Homo sapiens: one gene and its partners. The protein of the gene in region 1 purifies or fractionates together with the protein of each later gene. This does not show direct contact. Each region holds a gene or a part of one and is shown on either strand. Other genes may lie near its edges. The genes, in order: SPDEF, SLC30A9, PRMT8, PRDM16 and FASTKD1.

Region 1 (4,213 bases):
TTCTTGTCTGTTAAATGGGCTGTCAAGAGTATGTCTTAAAGGGGTTGTGGAGATTGAGATGGAGGGTGAATGGAAATCATTTATGATGGGTTGAGTGTACATGAGGGGGGCCCTGGGCACAGGTGAGGGGATCAGCTGGAGAAGAGGAAAGAGAGAGGGAATGGGGTGAGGAAGCCGGGGAGCAAAGGAAGAAGCGGAAGGTGATGGGGAGTAGAGGGAGTGGGCGAGAGAGTGGAGTCTGGGGGGAGCTGAGGATGGTGGTGAGGGAGGCTGGGGCCCTGTCCTGTTCTCTAGCCCAGTCCAGGCAGCTGCAGGCTTCACCCACCCTCCCTGCCCTCTAGGAGGAACCAGAACCAAGAATTCCTGCCCCACCCACTTCCCCCCGGCCCCCGCACCCGCCACCACCCCCCAACGCCCAGGAGACCGGCTGGCAAATCCAACTCCTACACAGCCTTCAAGGTCCTGCTCCAGGCTGTCTCCTCCGTGAAGCCTGCTTTAACAGGCAATAGCCTTGTCTAACCTTGTTTCACAGACAAGGTGTTGCAAGTACAGTGAGGAAAAGTGACCCGCCCACGGTCCCACATGGCGGGACCTCACCTGTTCCTTCTTGCCCTCCACCTTGAGGGTCTGTGTCCCCCTGTCAGACTAAATTAACTTCCCCGGGTTATACTCAGGCTGCAACAAGTCATTTAGCACAAAACTGCTCTAACGGTTTCAGGGCTATTCACTTTATACTCACAACGACCTCAGTGGTAAAAAGTGGGTTCTCCCGGTTTTTGCACTTCCTGCCAGCATCACACTTTCTGAGCATCGACTGAGCACCTACTGAGTGCAGCCCTATTCCCTCAGACTTGGTTGACAGAGAAGCCCTATCGAATTCAGAGGGTCCTTGTGAAAACCAAAGTGTTTTACAACTGACAGTGTGCAATAAGCAAGTCTGGTAGTTTTCAGCTCTGGATACCCCCACGGGGCCTCACTCAGAGGAAATGCTTGTACATGCACTGTCAGCCTCTCAAAGGCGAGGGTGGGTCCCCTACGCAGTGAGACCACCTCCTCCACACAGCCCCACCTGCCTGGGAGCTCCGAGAATGCCCCCCACCATTTGTCTGTGAGTTTGGGGTGGTGGGACTCCAAGCTGGGGGTCCTTGGCTCTGGCCCCTCTTGCAGGTGGGTGGAGGGAAGCTCAGCCCAACTGGCCTGGCTGAACCATGGCCTGGGCCTGCCCGTCTGGTGGGGCGTCTCCTCCCCATCCCTGCCCACCAGCTTGGGCCTGGGGCAGCCTGGACGCCTGTTTGCTTTGTTACTCAGCTGAGCAGCTGGTGATGGGGAGATGCAGCTTTATTGGGGAGGTTGCGGCAGGAAATGAGGCAAGTCCCAGCCCTGGCCGAGGAGGAGGAGAAAGCCCATGGCCATCATAAAGGACACAGGCTACGCGGGGCTCATGGCCTGGGTGTGGGCTGCTGGGCGGCCCCAGCTGATAGGTGAGGTGAGGGATCTTGGCCTGCCCCTCCCCAACATGCACACACACGCACACACACATGCACATGCAACACGCACGCGCACATGCACACACCACACACACACATACTTCCGCGCACACACACGCACGCACACACCTCCACCAGCCTCAGGGGCACCCAGTCGCCCAGGCCCTTCAGCTTCCCACCCTGTCATCCCACCACCCACTTCCTCTCTCCACCGCAGAAATCTGGCAAATCTTAGAAATGAGCACCTTCGAGGTACTGCTACTGTTGCTTTCCTTGTGTGCCAAGACCAGGACCCAAGGCTCTCAGCTTCCCCCAGTGTCCAAGGGCTCAGAGTGTGTGCTCAGCGGTGACCCCAGCCCCCTGGTTCCTGTGCCCATCCCTGCCCAGCCCAGCTACTGGGCTCTGGACCTGTCTCCCCTGTCCCGAACTGGACCCGGCCTTAGACTTAGCCCTGACCCATCAAGCTCCAGCAAGCCCCTGCCCACTGGTGGCCTGGCACCAGGGAGACCCTTTCCTCAGCAGAGCAGCTGGGTTGGCAGCAGCAGCAAGCCGCTTGTGTTTCTCCAGCCAAGCAGAACTGGCTGGGTCTCAGGGGCCGGGGCTCTGCATCTGCACGGCGGCCTCCCCTCAGGCTGGGCAGACTGGGCTCAGTGTGGGGGACCCCAGGCCTTGCCGGGCAAGGGGGCTCACCCAGCATGTAGAGTTGGCCCAGAGAGGCAGTCTGGGGAGCATGAGGAGGGGGCAAGGAATTCTGAGGGTAAAGGGATCCAGGTCACAGGGTCACTGATGACTGGGAGATGAGCTCTGAGCTGGCAAAGTGCGCCCCCTCCAAGTCCTGCCTGCAGTCGCCCACCCCCCAGCTGGCAGGGAAAGACCCCATGCCAGGGTACCCCCACCTCCTGTTGGACTCACCTGTTAGCTGCCTGGTGCCCAGGGAGCTGTCTGCTGCAGTGCCAACTTCAGGGGCCGGGAAGAGGTGTGGGCAGCTGAGGCCACTGGCGTGTCTCAGCCAGGCATCTGGGGGGCCAGCGGAACCAGGGGCCAGCAGGGCTGGTGGCAGAGGCAGCACTCAGGTTGGCCACTGGGGGCCTGGCCACCCTCAAGGGGTGGCCCTCTGAGGTCTCAGGGCTGCGTGCCTGTAGGGAGTCCCCTACCCCCAGCCCAGGGCTGCCTGCTGGCACCGTGGCAAGGCCCAACCTGAGGGGCTTGCAGGGAGCTGGCAGCAGGCTTGGAGGACTGGGTCTGTGGGGCAGTGTGGACACGGCAGAGTGCAGGAATGTGCTGGGAGGAAGTCAGACAGCCGCGAGATGAAGAGTTGGCCAGGGCCTGATTTCCCATTATAAGTAATCCTTCCTTATTTACCTGAACAAATACACTCCTTGCTTACCTCAGACCACAGGCAGGCTCCTGATTAACCCTTGCAGGTCTCCCCCTCCTTGCTGGGGGATCCATGCCCTGACAGCTAGGGGACTCATTCATTCACTCGCTCATTCACTCGTTCATTGGTTGCTGCATAGCCACTCAGCTCATATTACGTGCAAGGCGCCAGAGATACGTCGAGTGGGTCCAGGGCTGGGGTTCTAAGATGGATCAGCTGAGGGCCAGAGACAGACAAGTGAGCAGCAGTGGAGATCCAGAACCACCCATGCCCAGATGGAGGACTGAGGGGGCACTGAGGGTGGGCACCAACTAGGGAAATCAGTGAGGGCTTCCTGGAGGAGGTGCTGTCTGGCTACTCAGGCCAGGGATGGAGAGAGCTTCAGAGAACCCTGGGGAGGGATCCCGAGGCTTGTGGGCCAACCACGACCTGGTGGGAACTGTGTTCTCTGTGCCCCACAGGGTCCTCATGCAGACCTGTCACACAGTGGCGGTGAGGAAGGACTCCTAGCTCGCTTTCCCAGGCCCGTAATCGGGGGCCAGCCAGCAGCAACTTGCTCTCCCATAGCCCCAAAGGGTGATGGCAGGGATGCCACGCAGGACAGAGGTACCCACCACCAAGCACTTGCTGCCCCAGACCCTCCACCTCCTTGAGCCCTGCGGGGGCCACACAGTCCAGCTTTTGGCTTCCTCCATGTCCTGCCAGGTGGGCTGAGAGTTGTCCCTGGAGGCTGGGCCTTCCTTTCTCCAAATCATCTCAGAAGGGCTCCACGTACCTGCTACCTCCATTCTGACGGGAGAAAGTTCTAGATAATGCTGATTTTTCTCTTGTTTCAGGAGTAACTGTGTAACTGCCGAGAGCATGAGGATTCTGGGGCTGCAGGGGATCCCAAGGCCTTTAGAACTAGCCCCTCACCTTCACCAATACCCACATTCTCCAACGTAAGGTTGCACTTTGCACCCCCAGGGAGCCCTGTACTTGGCTGTTATCGTCACTGGCACCTTGGTTGAGGATCAGTTATCAGTCATTCCCCAGAGAAGGTTGAGGGAGGATGGAGCGGAGGAAGGGGAGGTAACACAAGGTCCTGAAATGGTACACTCGACCACTCCTAATCCCCAATGGTCCAGCCCTCCAGGGTCAATAAAGAAAGACACGCTGCGTTTCCAGGTGGATCTCCTTCCCCTAGAGTGCGTTTTTGTGCCTGCTTCTCTGGTGGCCACGCCTCCCTCCTCCCCACTCTCACAGAAGCCTGGCTTATATCACAGCATTCTGATGCATTAATACTAATGACCACTGCTTAACAGGCACCTACTGTATGCCTGTATGTTCGATGCTCATGAGATGCTAA
Region 2 (3,520 bases), on another chromosome or scaffold:
TCCTAGCTACTTGGGAGGCTGAGGTAGATAATTGCTTGAACCTGGGGGGCGGAGGTTGCAGTGAGCCAAGATCGCGCCACTGCACTCCAGCCTGGGTGACAGAGCGAGACTCTGTCTCAAAAAATAATAATACAATGCAATAAAATAAAGACCTTTCAAATCTATAAGTGTAATGCAAATGAACTTAAAACATGAAAAATCAGGGAGCAATGTAGAGGAAATCCCACTGGTCAATGAACTTCAATGTTTATTAACCTCAATGCTCCAAGAAATAAAATTAGAACAAGATACTATTTCACACCTATCAAACTGGCAAAAATTTAATAACTCTATTAATACAATCATGTAAGAATAGGAAGCAAGAACCTTGATATACAATGATGGAAGTTAAATTGACACACTTTGGAAAATAACTTGGTAAGACCTAGGCAAGCTGAAGGTAAGTACACCCAATGGCCCACCTATTTAAAATCTAGCTATCTATATATACACCATACTAAAGAAATTTTCATATATGTGAACAAGGAAACGTGTGAGAATGCAATCATGGCATTGTTTCTTTCTTTTTTTTTTTTTTTTGAGACGGAGTCTCGCTCTGTCGCCCAGGCTGGAGTGCAGTGGCACGATCTAGGCTCACTGCAACCTCCAACTCCCAGGTTCAAGCGATTCTACTGCCTCAGCCTGCCGAGTAGCTGGGACTACAGGCACGCACCACCACACCCAGCTAATTTTTGTATTTTTAGTAGATACGGGTTTTCACCATGTGGGCCAGGATGGGATCGATCTCTTGACCTCGTGATCCGCCCACCTCGGCCTCCCAAAGTGCTGGGATTACAGACGTGAGCCACCGCGCCCGGCCATGGCATTGTTTCTAACAGTAATATAAATGTCCATCAACTGGAGACAAAATAAATAAATTACAGCATATTCATAGGATGAAATGCTCTATAACAATGAAGGTAAACTGACTAGAGATATATAAATTAACACGGAAGAATCTAAAAAATATGTTGTTATGCCAATTGTAGAGACGCATACAGTAGGATACCATTTATACCAATTTTTAAACATTCAAAATGTTACATATTACACTAAAAAATGCTGAAAAGTATAAAAATCTGAATGGAAAAGACAGGTACCAAATTCAGCATAATGTTTAATTCTAGGGATGGAAGAAGAAGAATGAGATATAGAAAGAGAAAATGGGGGCTTGAATTGTTTTTGTAATTATTTCTTTTTTTAAGACCTTAAGCAAATACACTATAGCAAAATGTTAAGATTTGACAGGGGCAAGTGGTAACATCTGTGCTGTTCATTATATTCTGTTTTATAAATTCTCTTTTAAACTATTCTTAATAAAAAAATGGATTCTGGAGTCAGGCAGATCTCGATTCATATATGACTCCATCTCTGTGGCACTACAACTTAAGGCAAATTACTTAATCTCTGTCTTTCAATTTCTATATATGTTAAAATAAAAATGTTATTTCATTGTTGAAATAACAGGGTTGTTGAGGGTAAATTAGATAAAAAAAGATTAAATGCACATAGCAAGCATGAAATAGTAAGTTTGTTCTTTTGCTGTCTCCTCTGAACCCCTCCATAGTAAATATAAAGGTCTCTGTTAAATTTTGGAACCTAAGAAGTTGAGAGCTAAAGTGCCTTTAAGATCTATAAAAAAAAATTTCATTTTGTTTACCTTAAAAGCATTTTTCTAACCCTCAGTTATGTAAGAAAACAACAAATAAACTTACTTGTAACATTTGGTCAAAATCTTGTTTTTCCAAATATGATCTTGTAACAACTCGCCCATCAAAATCTACTTCTGCCTTAAATCTTACTTTACCTAATCCCAGATCTGTGGCTTTAACATCATGAATTGCCCTGCAATCAATAACAATGCATACAAATTTATTTATACATACATACACATATATATACTTTAATAGCACAAAGGCTTGAATTATTGTTTTTTTCCCCACTAGTTACGAGAATGGACTAAGATGGCTTCAGAGTATTCACCATTAAGTACCACCTATCATTTTCCAAGGCCTGTCCGTTTAGCTTTTTTTTTGGCATGATATCATACAAAGGTGCAAACTTAACAAATATTATTTTATGGTAATTTATGAATTATAAAGCTCATGTATTAAAAGTTCATTAACTCTGCTGGGCGCAGTGGCTCATGCCTGTAATCCCAACACTTTCGGAGGCCGAGCAGGGAGGATCACCTGAGGTCAGGAGTTTGAGACCAGCCTGGCCAATATGGTGAAACCCTGTCTCTACTAAAACTACAAAAATTAGCCAGGCATGGTGGTGCATGCCTGTAATCCCAGCTACTCAGGAGGCTGAGACAGGAGAATTGCTTGAACCTGGGAGGCAGAGGTTGCAGTGAACCCAGATTGTGCCACTGCACTCCAGCCTGGGCAACAGAGTAAGACTCTGTCTCAAAAAAAAAAAAAAAAAAAAAAAAAAAAAAAATATATATATATATATATATATATATATATATATATATATTCATTAACTCTAAATCAATTTTCTAAAATGTCATGTTATCTCATAAGCCTTTGTCTCCATATATCTACTTATCAATTTCCTAAATGCCATATAAAAATTTGTTTTAATTTATAATGGTGTTGTAGAGTATATTAACCAATTGTATGTTCACTAGCTTCTTTAAAAGTCTTCATACAATGCTGTGAAGTTCTCTATTAGAATGAGGTTAATAATAACTGCCACATGGGACTTGATGTGAGGAATAATGAGCTAATACATATATAAAATGTTTAATACAGTAAGAACTATAAGGCAGGCATTTAATGGATGGCTTTCATAAGTGGATAGGGTGACATCTTTATTTTATACATGATAAAACCATCCTAGAGTGGCATAAGTGACTTGCTCAAGGTAATTTAGCTAGTAAACAGCAGATTAGGACTCCCCAGCCCAGCTCTTCAGAAATGCAAGCCCAGTGGTATTTGCATCATACCCTTTTGCCTCCCAGACAGGAAAGCAGATACTCAAGCATAACTACTTTTCACCCCTCCTGCTCTAACCCTCAGTAAACAATCTTCCCTAGAAACTGCTGAGAAATTCTCTTCTTTCTACAGTGATCACTGTAAGATCTTTTCTGTACAGCACATATAAGAAATAACAAAACACTCTGAATTCTGAGGACATGGAGATTTACTAGAAAAACAAGCCTACGTAAGACTCCAAGTATTCTTACAACATTAGACCCTAATTTCTGAGGGATCCTGAGCAGGTTACTAAACACTGAGTCCAAAATTTTTTATCCATATAAGGAAGCTATATTTTAATCAACCATCAAGGATGAAATAAGAATTAATGTTTTAATATTTATAGTTACATGTGCTCAAGTTAAAACAAAACTTTTTCAGATTGGCAAAAGGCTATATCATTTATTCTTTTTTTTTTCTCTCCTGGTAACTCACAGAACATATTTATTCATTTTCAAAAATCATTTCTACTTTAGTCTTCACAGAGTATAAACACA
Region 3 (3,520 bases), on another chromosome or scaffold:
TTCTTACTTCACTTGTTATAAGAATTCCCTCAAGCATCACAGTTTTTCCCATATTTGTAATGAGTGGCCCATAAGTAAAGATCTCTTTTTAAAGTGTAATTTTATATTGAGCAAACAGCTTGATGTGCGTATTTTCATAAAGTCATAGAATGTTAAAGTTGGGTGGAAACTCAAATCACTTAAGTCAGGAGATAGGAACTACTTGTCCAATATCACAGAGCTCTTCCGTGTTGGGGTCAAGATCCTGTGGACTCCTGGGTCTGTGCTCTTTATACCTCCTTTAAACGTAGCATCTCATTTATTGTTTTTATTTTTTGTGCCAACTTTCTGGTATATCCTGATCTGTACTGTCTAAGACCAGTGTTTCTCTGCATAAGGTCTAGGAATTGTGCATAGTGAGAGCTCTGACCTTCTTGTAGAACTTAAAATGCTCGCTTATTACATTGCATTGTGTGCAATGCTGTGAATTACATATATCCCCATTGTATGGATTAATAAACTGAAGCACAGAGAGTTACTGTTATTTGCTCAAAATCCCACAGCTGGTAAGTGATGAGGCTAGAGCTCAAAGTCTGGTTTTCTAATCACCAAAATGCTTTTTCTAGTCCGCTAGGCTGCGAAGGCATGAGAAGAACCAGAGTACAAACTTAAAATGTGAAGAGAAAGGGTGGAGAAATTAACAGCAGGAATGTGGAATGGTGAATTTGGAAGAAGCCTAGGAAGAGACACCAGCCCAGCTTTCCTTTTTCCAGGACGTCTTTTCTTGCTTCCACCGCCATCTTGCCATCCTCACTTTCACAGTCTCCAGTACTGTGCCGTGTGAGTGACAGGGGCCTGACATAATTGTGGCAGGGACAGCCATCACCTCACTCTCCCTGCGCATCTAAACTATCCCTAGGCGTGGGTTCCTAGCTGGACCCAGTAGACAATGTACTTGTCTAACAAAGTATAGCTCTTCGGAAGCTTGACCCTAGGCCATCAATATTAGATCTGGACTCTCATCCAGCTACTTTATTGGGATAAAATGAATACTAAAGTCTCCAGGACAGGAACTTTGTTTCTTAAAATTTATCTTTGTAGTTTCATCACCTGTATTACCCTCCTAGGTCTGCTGTAATAAAGTACCACAAACTGGGTGGCTTTAAAACAACGAGATGTCTTCTTCCACAGTTCTGGAAGCCAGAAGTCTGAAATCCAGATGCCAGCAGGGTTGGTTCCTCTTGAAGTCTTCATGGAGAATCTGTTCCTTGCCTTTCTTCTGGTTTCCCGTGGTGGCCAACGATGCTCAGCCTTCCTTGGCTATAGACACATCATCTGGTCTCTGCCTTCATCTTCACAGGGCATTCTTTCCTGTGTGTGTCTATACGTCTTCTTATAAGGACAACAGTCTTGTTGGATTAGGGGCCACTCTAATCCAATATGACTTCATCTTAACTTGATAACATCTGCAAAGACCCTATTTTTATTTTTATTTATTTATTTATTTTTTTTTTCCTTTCTTTTTTTTTTTTTTTATTATACTCTAAGTTTTAGGGTACATGTGCACATTGTGCAGGTTAGTTACATATGTATACATGTGCCATGCTGGTGCACTGCACCCACTAATGTGTCATCTAGCATTAGGTATATCTCCCAATGCTATCCCTCCCCCCTCCCCCCGACCCCACCACAGTCCCCAGAGTGTGATATTCCCCTTCCTGTGTCCATGTGATCTCATTGTTCAATTCCCACCTATGAGTGAGAATATGCGGTGTTAGGTTTTTTGTTCTTGCGATAGTTTACTGAGAATGATGGTTTCCAATTTCATCCATGTCCCTACAAAGGATATGAACTCATCATTTTTTATGGCTGCATAGTATTCCATGGTGTATATGTGCCACATTTTCTTAATCCAGTCTATCATTGTTGGACATTTGGGTTGGTTCCAAGTCTTTGCTATTGTGAATAGTGCCGCAATAAACATACGTGTGCATGTGTCTTTATAGCAGCATGATTTATAGTCCTTTGGGTATATACCCAGTAATGGGATGGCTGGGTCAAATGGTATTTCTAGTTCTAGATCCCTGAGGAATCGCCACACTGACTTCCACAATGGTTGAACTAGTTTACAGTCCCACCAACAGTGTAAAAGTGTTCCTATTTCTCCACATCCTCTCCAGCACCTGTTGTTTCCTGACTTTTTAATGATTGCCATTCTAACTGGTGTGAGATGATATCTCATAGTGGTTTTGATTTGCATTTCTCTGATGGCCAGTGATGATGAGCATTTCTTCATGTGTTTTTTGGCTGCATAAATGTCTTCTTTTGAGAAGTGTCTGTTCATGTCCTTCGCCCACTTTTTGATGGGGTTGTTTGTTTTTTTCTTGTAAATTTGTTTGAGTTCATTGTAGATTCTGGATATTAGCCCTTTGTCAGATGAGTAGGTTGCGAAAATTTTCTCCCATGTTGTAGGTTGCCTGTTCACTCTGATGGTAGTTTCTTTTGCTGTGCAGAAGCTCTTTAGTTTAATTAGATCCCATTTGTCAATTTTGGCTTTTGTTGCCATTGCTTTTGGTGTTTTGGACATGAAGTCCTTGCCCACGCCTATGTCCTGAATGGTAATGCCTAGGTTTTCTTCTAGGGTTTTTATGGTTTTAGGTCTAACGTTTAAATCTTTAATCCATCTTGAATTGATTTTTGTATAAGGTGTAAGGAAGGGATCCAGTTTCAGCTTTCTACATATGGCTAGCCAGTTTTCCCAGCACCATTTATTAAATAGGGAATCCTTTCCCCATTGCTTGTTTTTCTCAGGTTTGTCAAAGATCAGATAGTTGTAGATATGCGGCATTATTTCTGAGGGCTCTGTTCTGTTCCATTGATCTATATCTCTGTTTTGGTACCAGTACCATGCTGTTTTGGTTACTGTAGCCTTGTAGTATAGTTTGAAGTCAGGTAGTGTGATGCCTCCAGCTTTGTTCTTTTGGCTTAGGATTGACTTGGCGATGCGGGCTCTTTTTTGGTTCCATATGAACTTTAAAGTAGTTTTTTCCAATTCTGTGAAGAAAGTCATTGGTAGCTTGATGGGGATGGCATTGAATCTGTAAATTACCTTGGGCAGTATGGCCATTTTCACGATATTGATTCTTCCTACCCATGAGCATGGAATGTTCTTCCATTTGTTTGTGTCCTCTTTTATTTCCTTGAGCAGTGGTTTGTAGTTCTCCTTGAAGAGGTCCTTCACATCCCTTGTAAGTTGGATTCCTAGGTATTTTATTCTCTTTGAAGCAATTGTGAATGGGAGTTCACCCATGATTTGGCTCTCTGTTTGTCTGTTGTTGGTGTATAAGAATGCTTGTGATTTTTGTACATTGATTTTGTATCCTGAGACTTTGCTGAAGTTGCTTATCAGCTTAAGGAGATTTTGGGCTGAGACGATGGGGTTTTCTAGATAAACAATCATGTCGTCTGCAAACAGGGACAATTTGACTTCCTCTTTTCCTAATTGAATACCCTTTATTTCCTTCTCCTGCCTGATTGCCCT
Region 4 (3,520 bases), on another chromosome or scaffold:
ACTCAATGCTTAACAAAAGCTTATTGTTTCCAGGGCTGTTGTGAGCCAGGTGGGCAGGTGGGGGGTTAGCACCACCAAGGTGCTCTCTGGATCACCATCGCCCTCATAGCACAGCTGGGGGCCTCTGTGCAGGAGGAGGATGTGCCAGTCGGCACCCCCATCAGAGCTGCTCCTTGAGGCCTGATCCCCACCTAGGTGGCAGACCCCATGTCCTAGATGCCACATACCCCAGGGCTGGGGGAGTGTCCTCTCCACAAGTCCCATCTAGCCCCTGGGGTGGGGGAGCTGCAGCCCCCACTAGATGGGGACTGTGTGTGTCTTGCTCGTGTTTGAGGGTGATGCGTGTGGAAGGTGTGCTGGAGACAGGGTAGAGGTAAGCGGGGCTGGCGGCCCAGTTCACAGCCTCCTTCCTTCTTCGTAGAAACAGGCCAGGCTGGCTGGGCCCTCCCTTCTCCCACCCTCCCTGGGGCAGTTGGCCCCGTCCACCAGTCCCCTCCCCAGAGCCAGGACGGCAGCCTTCCCTCTGAAGGCCGGTTAGGGCAGCAGCGCCAGGACGTCCGGCGGGAATCCAGCGTCTTGCCCCGCTTCGGACGAAAACACAGAGGCTGCGGTGGAGGGGTGGAGTGCGGGGCTGGCCGCCAGGGCTTGGTGCCCCACGGCAGTGGACTGTGTGTCACCCACAGGCCCCCTCCCTCAGCCCCTGGCTGCGCAGGTGTGCCATGGCTCGGAAGCTGGCAGGAGGGGCTTGCCAAGCTGGCTTGTGGAGCAACTGCTGGGTGGGCTCCTTGGGGACAGGCACCGGCCATGCCTGGCTCGCCAACCACCAGACGCCCACTCGGGGGGTCCTCCTTGTCCTGTGAGCGGCTCTTCCAGAGCAGGTGCCAGCCCGACATCCTGGCCCCTCCTGGCCCCGAGGCTTCCTCGGCTCCCAAGTCCTCCTGTAGGCAGTGCGCAGGGCAGGGGACCAGGTCTGCCATTTCTGCCGGGAGGCTGGGTGAAGGGGACCCAGCAGCCAGGGGCTCCCCCCACCGGGCCCCTCAGGGGAGGTGAGGCTGGTGGCAGCTCGCTGGGCCGCTGTGGGCCCGATTAGCCCCCTGTTTTATTCAATTAGGAGGCAATTAGGGATCCTTGGGGGGCTTGGGCTGGTAATTAAGGTGATGTATAATTAGAGTTTCAACAAAAATTATCCGGGATTAAAAATCTTTTGAATAATTTCGTTTAAAATTTTCAAATAGCGTTAAATACAATTTATCAGGTTTTGAATCAAACCCGTGTAACGAGTCTTGGAAGCTGCAGCTCCCGTCGCCGGCGCGGGAGGACCAGGAGCAGCTCCGGCGACTTCCCCGTGCGGGAAGGAAACTTCGCGAGCGAAGCCAGCTGGCTGGGGCCTCGCCGCGGTGCAGCGGCGGCCGCGGGCTCAGAATCGAGCCACCGAGGGCTGCAGACGGCGTGGGCCGGGTCGGGGAGCGGGGCCTGGGGGACCCCGGGCCGGCCGGTAGTCTCGGCCGACTTCCCACTCCCCGCGCACAAAGTCGCGGCCAACTACCGCGGAGCAGCGCCCGCGTCCACACCGCGCAGCCTGGCGCCCCGACCCTGGCCCAGCGGGAGCGGCGCTCTCCCCTTCTAGAGCCCCAGCTTGGACCCCGGGGTCCCCTCCTCCTGGCCTCCCTTGCGGAGGAGGGCGGCCTCCGCGTCCCCAACCGCCGACCCTCGACCTCGTGCGGGACACCGTGGGCGCCAGGCCCCCCGCTTGCCTGGGTTCCCTGCGACATCCCGACCCGCGCCCCGAGAGACGCGGGAGCGCGCGCCGCCTGGGTTTAAGTAGGGGCTGTAGGGGGAGGGAAGACGGTGCAGAGAAACGGAGGCAGAGGGTGGGGGTCTGGCTTTCCAGGGTAGACCCGCCTGCCCAGTCTGATCCGCAGCCCCGGCCCCTGCCGGCAACCTCGGGAGACGGGCCGGGCTCCCTAGTGCACTTGGGGGACAGGACACCTCCTCCCTTCACTGACCCTGGGAAGACAGAGTGCAGGCGAGCAGGCACCACTTTTGAGAGTGAGAAACCCCAGACGCAGAGAGGTGGAGGAACTCTTGGGAGGGCACACAGCAGATTGAGGCTCCAGTGAAATTCAGTGGAATGAAGACCTCCAGGGCTTCTTATGTAGCATTCCCCTCCCCCACAGAGCACCACAGGCTGCCGTTAATTCCATAGGGTTTTTTCTGTGTGTGTGTGTGTGTGCGCGTGTGTGTGTGCGTGTCAGGGTTTAAGCATTTTCTCAAGGCCAATGCTCAACTTGTAGCAGGTCTGTTCTTAAAAAGCAGGCAGGACATCACGTGCGTCCAGCGTGTAAGTGACCTCACACCTGCAGGCTGGACTCCCGCTGGGCTCCGTCCCCCACAGCTCCTGCCCCTTCTGTGGGTGTTCTGTCCCCAAGGGCAGGCACAGAGGAGCAGAAACCTTGGTCGGGTGGCCTGGCCTGCACCCTCCACACTCCCTCGCTCACTGCCTTCATCCGGAGCAAATGCAGGAGGCTCAGGTTGGCCCGGGAGGTGTAGGACCTGCCCTTTGCCACCCCTCAGATCTGGAGGGGAATAACCACCACCCACCGCCTCCACCCACCGCCCAGCAGTCAGGGGGAGGTGGAGCTGCTGCTGCCCTGTTGGTCTGAGCTGCAGGGTGGAAGGGGCCGGCTGCTGACATCCCTGGTCCAGCCTGGCGTGGGCCACGGCTCCTGAAGTCTGGGTGTCTCCTAGGCTGCAGCCAGGGCCACGGTGGTCATCCTGGGCCAGGAGTGCTCCCAAGCTTTGGTGGGCCCAGAGCAGGGGAGGAGTGGCCTCTCCCTGGTCTGACCACTTCACTCTTGGGCTTTTGCCATCAAATCCTCCACGGTCTGGAGGTGCCTGGGCTGGCCCGCCTGGCCGGCCTAGCCTGAGACGCGGGAACAATGCCCCGAGGCCTGAAGATAGGAGTGCTGGCCGCTCCAAGATCATATTTGTTTAATAGTTAACATTTTGGGCAGAAAAGGAGGGAAGTCAGATTCTGGTGAAGGTTTTGCTTATTTTATATCCACTATAACTATTTCTGTCCATGAAAATTGGCTTAATTATATCAATGGAATGTTTCTTTTTCAATTCTGTATGCAATTAGTCCATCTTGCCGGCTGCAATTTATTTTAATAAAAAAATAAACCAGTGGTGTGTTCAGTTCCTCGTCCCCTGGGGACAAATGCGATTGGTGTGTTTAATTTCATTAACTACAATGCGGCCTACTGGAAAAATGTATAAAATCAGCTTTATACAGCTTAAACACTGGCATTTGAAACAAATCATTATTGCATTAGCTGTCACACTGGTAATTCTAGAATCTAAGGAAAAAAATATATTATGGCTGTTTTTATAACCCTTTGCAAATGCACTGTTAAAATAATTTATAATCATTTTAAAACATGGCTGGGTCCTAGTGACTATTTCATCTCCTCTGAATAAGGCTCTGTGCCGTCCCATGCGCGTTTTCCGCGCTGATGGC
Region 5 (3,520 bases), on another chromosome or scaffold:
CCTTCCTTCCTCCTACCTCATTGGCCATCCCTGCTCAGTCTCCTTTCCTGATTCCTCCTCTTCCTCTTAATCTTTTAATGTTGGGGCACTTGAAAACTCAGTCCTCAGACCTCTCCTCCATTCACACTCTTCTCTAATCTCATTTTAAGCGATTTCATCTACTCTCATGGCATTGAATACTGCTGACATTTATACATTTATATCTGGGGCCTGGACCTCTTCCCTGACCTCCAAGCTCATTTACTGAATTCTCTATTTGATATATCCACTTAGATGTTTAAAAGACATCACAAACTCAACATATCTAAAACAAACTTGTGATCAACCCCCACCACCTGCCCCCCATCTTGCTCTTCCTATAGACTATCCCCATCTTAGTTAATGCTAATGACATCCTCTTAGTTGCTTAGGACAAAAACTTAGAATTATCCTTGACTCCTATTTGTCTCATACCTCATATCCAATCAGTGAGCAAATTCTGTTGCCTTTATCTTCAACATACATCCAAAAAATCTGACTACTTCTTATTACCTCCACTGCTACCACTCTCTCCAAGCCACCATCCATTGTTGTCTGGATTATTGCAATGACCTCGTAAAGAGTTTTCTTTCTTACACATTTGCCTCATCGTAGTCTTTTCTTATCTCAACAAGGTAGCCAAAGTAACGCAGTTAAAATGTGAATTCATATCATTCCTTACTTGAAAAGCCCCCAATGGCTTCTCATCTCGCTCAGAGTAGCCAAGAGGTTGTATTTGACTCTGTTATCTCTTATCTTTTCTCTTATACACTCCCACCCCACTCCCCACTTGTTCTGCTCCAGCCACACTGGATCCTTTGTTATTCTCAAACATGCCAGGCATGTTCCCACCTTAGGACATTTGTACCTATTTTTTAATTGAGACAGGCCACTTTATTAAAATAGGTCCAAATGTAACACACGATAACATTCATTTTAAATAAAAACTACAAACATGACTTGACTTCTCCAAATATACATTCTCTCAGGTAGTCCATCCGAGCATCCTTTGTTGACAGTGCCATAGAGTTCCATTCAAACTGGGAAATCTGAAAATAAGTAATGTTGTTTGAATGAAAGTTTTAAAGCAACAACAAAAAACATTGAGGAAGACATATAAGCACTACTGATCAAAGCTGTAGGAATCCTATGAAATTAGTTTACATAAGGATAGCCTGTGAACCTCTACTGGAAGCCAAGTGGGTCCTTCTGACATTGCCTAGAATACTTTTTTCTGCTCCTTTCATCCTCCTTTTCCTACAATACCAATGATGGACATTTTTTCCTACATAGTCTTCTATATTCATACCTAGTTGTTTCCTCTGATAACTCTATCCATCTCTACAGTGCCTCTCTCCTTTGTAAGATATAGAAATCATAAGATATGGATATTCTAAAGACAATAAAATAAATGACAACTTTTATTTATTTATTTTTATGAGACAGGGTCTTGCTCTGTCACCCAGGCTGGAGTGCAGTGGGATGATCACGGCTCACTGCAGCCTCAATCTCCTAGGATCAAGCAATCCTCCCACCTCAGCCACCCAAGTAGCTACAGGCATGAGCTATTGTATCTGGCCTGTTTGAGTGATACATTTTAAAAAATATATTTAAAAAGGTAATTCTGGAACTTTCACATTAAAAGGAAGCACATGTACAGCTAGTGTCTCTGGGCTTTTTAGAGGCTGAATTACATGAGTATTTCATACCTGAATTACACGATACCCCAGAATTTCCAAATGTCGTTTTTTCATAGCAGATTTTCCTTTCATGTGAGGGATATTTCTACAAAGTGCTTTTGAATCCAAAAATTCCAAAGCAATCCTACATAAAATAAAAAAATATTTACTCCTAAAATCAGAATAAGAAACTGAATAATTACAAGCTTTTCAGAAACAAGATTGCATCTTTATAAACTAACAAAAGCCAATGAATATAAATGAGTATATCAAGTTATGTTTCTACTAAGAAATTAGTAATTGATGACAAACCTATTTAGTTACACAAAATTATTGTAAATATTTGTCTGCTTTCATCCATTTTTTTGGTCCAATATATATTTACACATGCCTACTACATGTAAACCACTGTGAGGGGTACAAATATGAAGCAACACAGCTTATAGTCTAACAGAGAACACATGATGTATAGTAAGTTACTGTAATGCAGTGTAGGAAGTGGCTAAGTGCTATGAGAAAAGTAGAGAGGTATGGGAGCGCAAAAGAAGATACTATTTTACTTCCAGTGGAGGACAATTCTTTTAGCACTTTAGTTAGGGAGATTGCTAGGCTTTGGACAGAAGAAGGGAGAACATTAAAGCAGAAAGGAGAGGAAAAGCAAAGTTACAAAGGTGGAATGCATGACATATGAGGAACAGATTCCACTACCTTCAATCCTTGATCACTGACTTCAGTATAGTACACCAAATTTAACATTTAGATATTAATACAATCTAAAACTAAGAAATAAATTACCTTTCAGCCCCTGGTGGCAGCCTTGATCCAACTATTTCGATATTTGATTCCCAGGGCATTTCTGGTAGTTGTCCCAATGCTATATTATGGCTTCCATACGGAAGAGGTTTTTTTCTTTTATCCAAGATACACTCAAAATCTTAAGGAAGCATAGAAACTGGTAGTATGAATTAGGTAAAGTCTTACAGATAAAAGTTTAAGATATATTTGAAATATATATGCATATAATATTTGTACACACACACACTCACAAAAGAATGACGAACCTCTCAGATTATCCAAGTTATTTTTATAAGATCTGGTCCAATGGCACCTCTCTTTGGAAATCAATCAATAAAAAAATCAACCAGAAGAATTACAAAACAATATTAAGTACTAGGCTACATTTAGCGCTGGGCTAGGCCAAATCACATTAAAGAGTTTCAATCTCTTTAAGGCTCTTGATTACATTTGGAGAAAGCTAAACCAACTCATCTGAAAATTAATAAAGAAAAAGATACAAGCATTTATCCTGTCTTTTCTACATGAATTGTACATAAGAGTAACTAAACAGTTGATATGGGAAAGTCCTTTTTAGACAAATTCCAGCTAATAAATGTAGAAGGCATGATAGATGTAGAATATCGCTACTTTACCACCCCTCTGAATGATGGATTTAGGCAATGAGTGATCATTAATAACTGCTAAAATCAGCAGGTGAAAAGCTGACAGGGGAACTTTCTGTTGAATGAATCAGCTGACAACATACGAACCCACTGATGAGTCTTAATGTATAAAAGACAACCAGGCCAGGCACAGTGGCTCACACCTGTAATCCCAGCATTTTGGGAGGCCGAGGCAGGCAGATTGCTTGAGCTCAGGAGTTCCAGACCAGCCTGGGCAACATGGCAAAACCCAATCTCTACAAAAAACTTAAAAAATAAGCCAGGTGTAGTGGTAGCTACTCCGGCTGAGGAGGCTGAGGTGGGCGGATCCCTTGAACCTAGGAGGTCAAGGCTGCAGTAAGCCATGCTTGTGCCACTGCACCT

What was found.
Region 2: the proteins of SPDEF (region 1) and SLC30A9 purify together in Homo sapiens (affinity purification with mass spectrometry; 2 studies listed by BioGRID and IntAct, with this or other methods). This does not show direct contact.
Region 3: the proteins of SPDEF (region 1) and PRMT8 purify together in Homo sapiens (affinity purification with mass spectrometry; 2 studies listed by BioGRID and IntAct, with this or other methods). This does not show direct contact.
Region 4: the proteins of SPDEF (region 1) and PRDM16 purify together in Homo sapiens (affinity purification with mass spectrometry; 3 studies listed by BioGRID and IntAct, with this or other methods). This does not show direct contact.
Region 5: the proteins of SPDEF (region 1) and FASTKD1 purify together in Homo sapiens (affinity purification with mass spectrometry; 3 studies listed by BioGRID and IntAct, with this or other methods). This does not show direct contact.

The regions. Positions count from the first base shown.
Region 1 is NC_000006.12:34,553,530-34,557,742, forward strand, and holds the start of SPDEF (SAM pointed domain-containing Ets transcription factor), read right to left. Parts: upstream 2,801-4,213; 5' UTR 2,400-2,800; intron 1-2,399. UniProt on the Homo sapiens protein: May function as an androgen-independent transactivator of the prostate-specific antigen (PSA) promoter. Binds to 5'-GGAT-3' DNA sequences. May play a role in the regulation of the prostate gland and/or prostate cancer development.
Region 2 is NC_000004.12:42,074,021-42,077,540, reverse strand, and holds part of SLC30A9 (proton-coupled zinc antiporter SLC30A9, mitochondrial), read right to left. Parts: intron 1,885-3,520; coding exon 1,755-1,884; intron 1-1,754. UniProt on the Homo sapiens protein: Mitochondrial proton-coupled zinc ion antiporter mediating the export of zinc from the mitochondria and involved in zinc homeostasis, zinc mobilization as well as mitochondrial morphology and health.
Region 3 is NC_000012.12:3,497,695-3,501,214, forward strand, and holds part of PRMT8 (protein arginine N-methyltransferase 8), read left to right. Parts: intron 1-3,520. UniProt on the Homo sapiens protein: S-adenosyl-L-methionine-dependent and membrane-associated arginine methyltransferase that can both catalyze the formation of omega-N monomethylarginine (MMA) and asymmetrical dimethylarginine (aDMA) in proteins such as NIFK, myelin basic protein, histone H4, H2A and H2A/H2B dimer.
Region 4 is NC_000001.11:3,072,197-3,075,716, forward strand, and holds part of PRDM16 (histone-lysine N-methyltransferase PRDM16), read left to right. Parts: exon of another isoform or gene 1-3,366; intron 3,367-3,520. UniProt on the Homo sapiens protein: Binds DNA and functions as a transcriptional regulator. Displays histone methyltransferase activity and monomethylates 'Lys-9' of histone H3 (H3K9me1) in vitro.
Region 5 is NC_000002.12:169,528,860-169,532,379, forward strand, and holds part of FASTKD1 (FAST kinase domain-containing protein 1, mitochondrial), read right to left. Parts: intron 2,632-3,520; coding exon 2,493-2,631; intron 1,843-2,492; coding exon 1,728-1,842; intron 1,068-1,727; coding exon 966-1,067; 3' UTR 1-965. UniProt on the Homo sapiens protein: Involved in the down-regulation of mitochondrial MT-ND3 mRNA levels which leads to decreased respiratory complex I abundance and activity.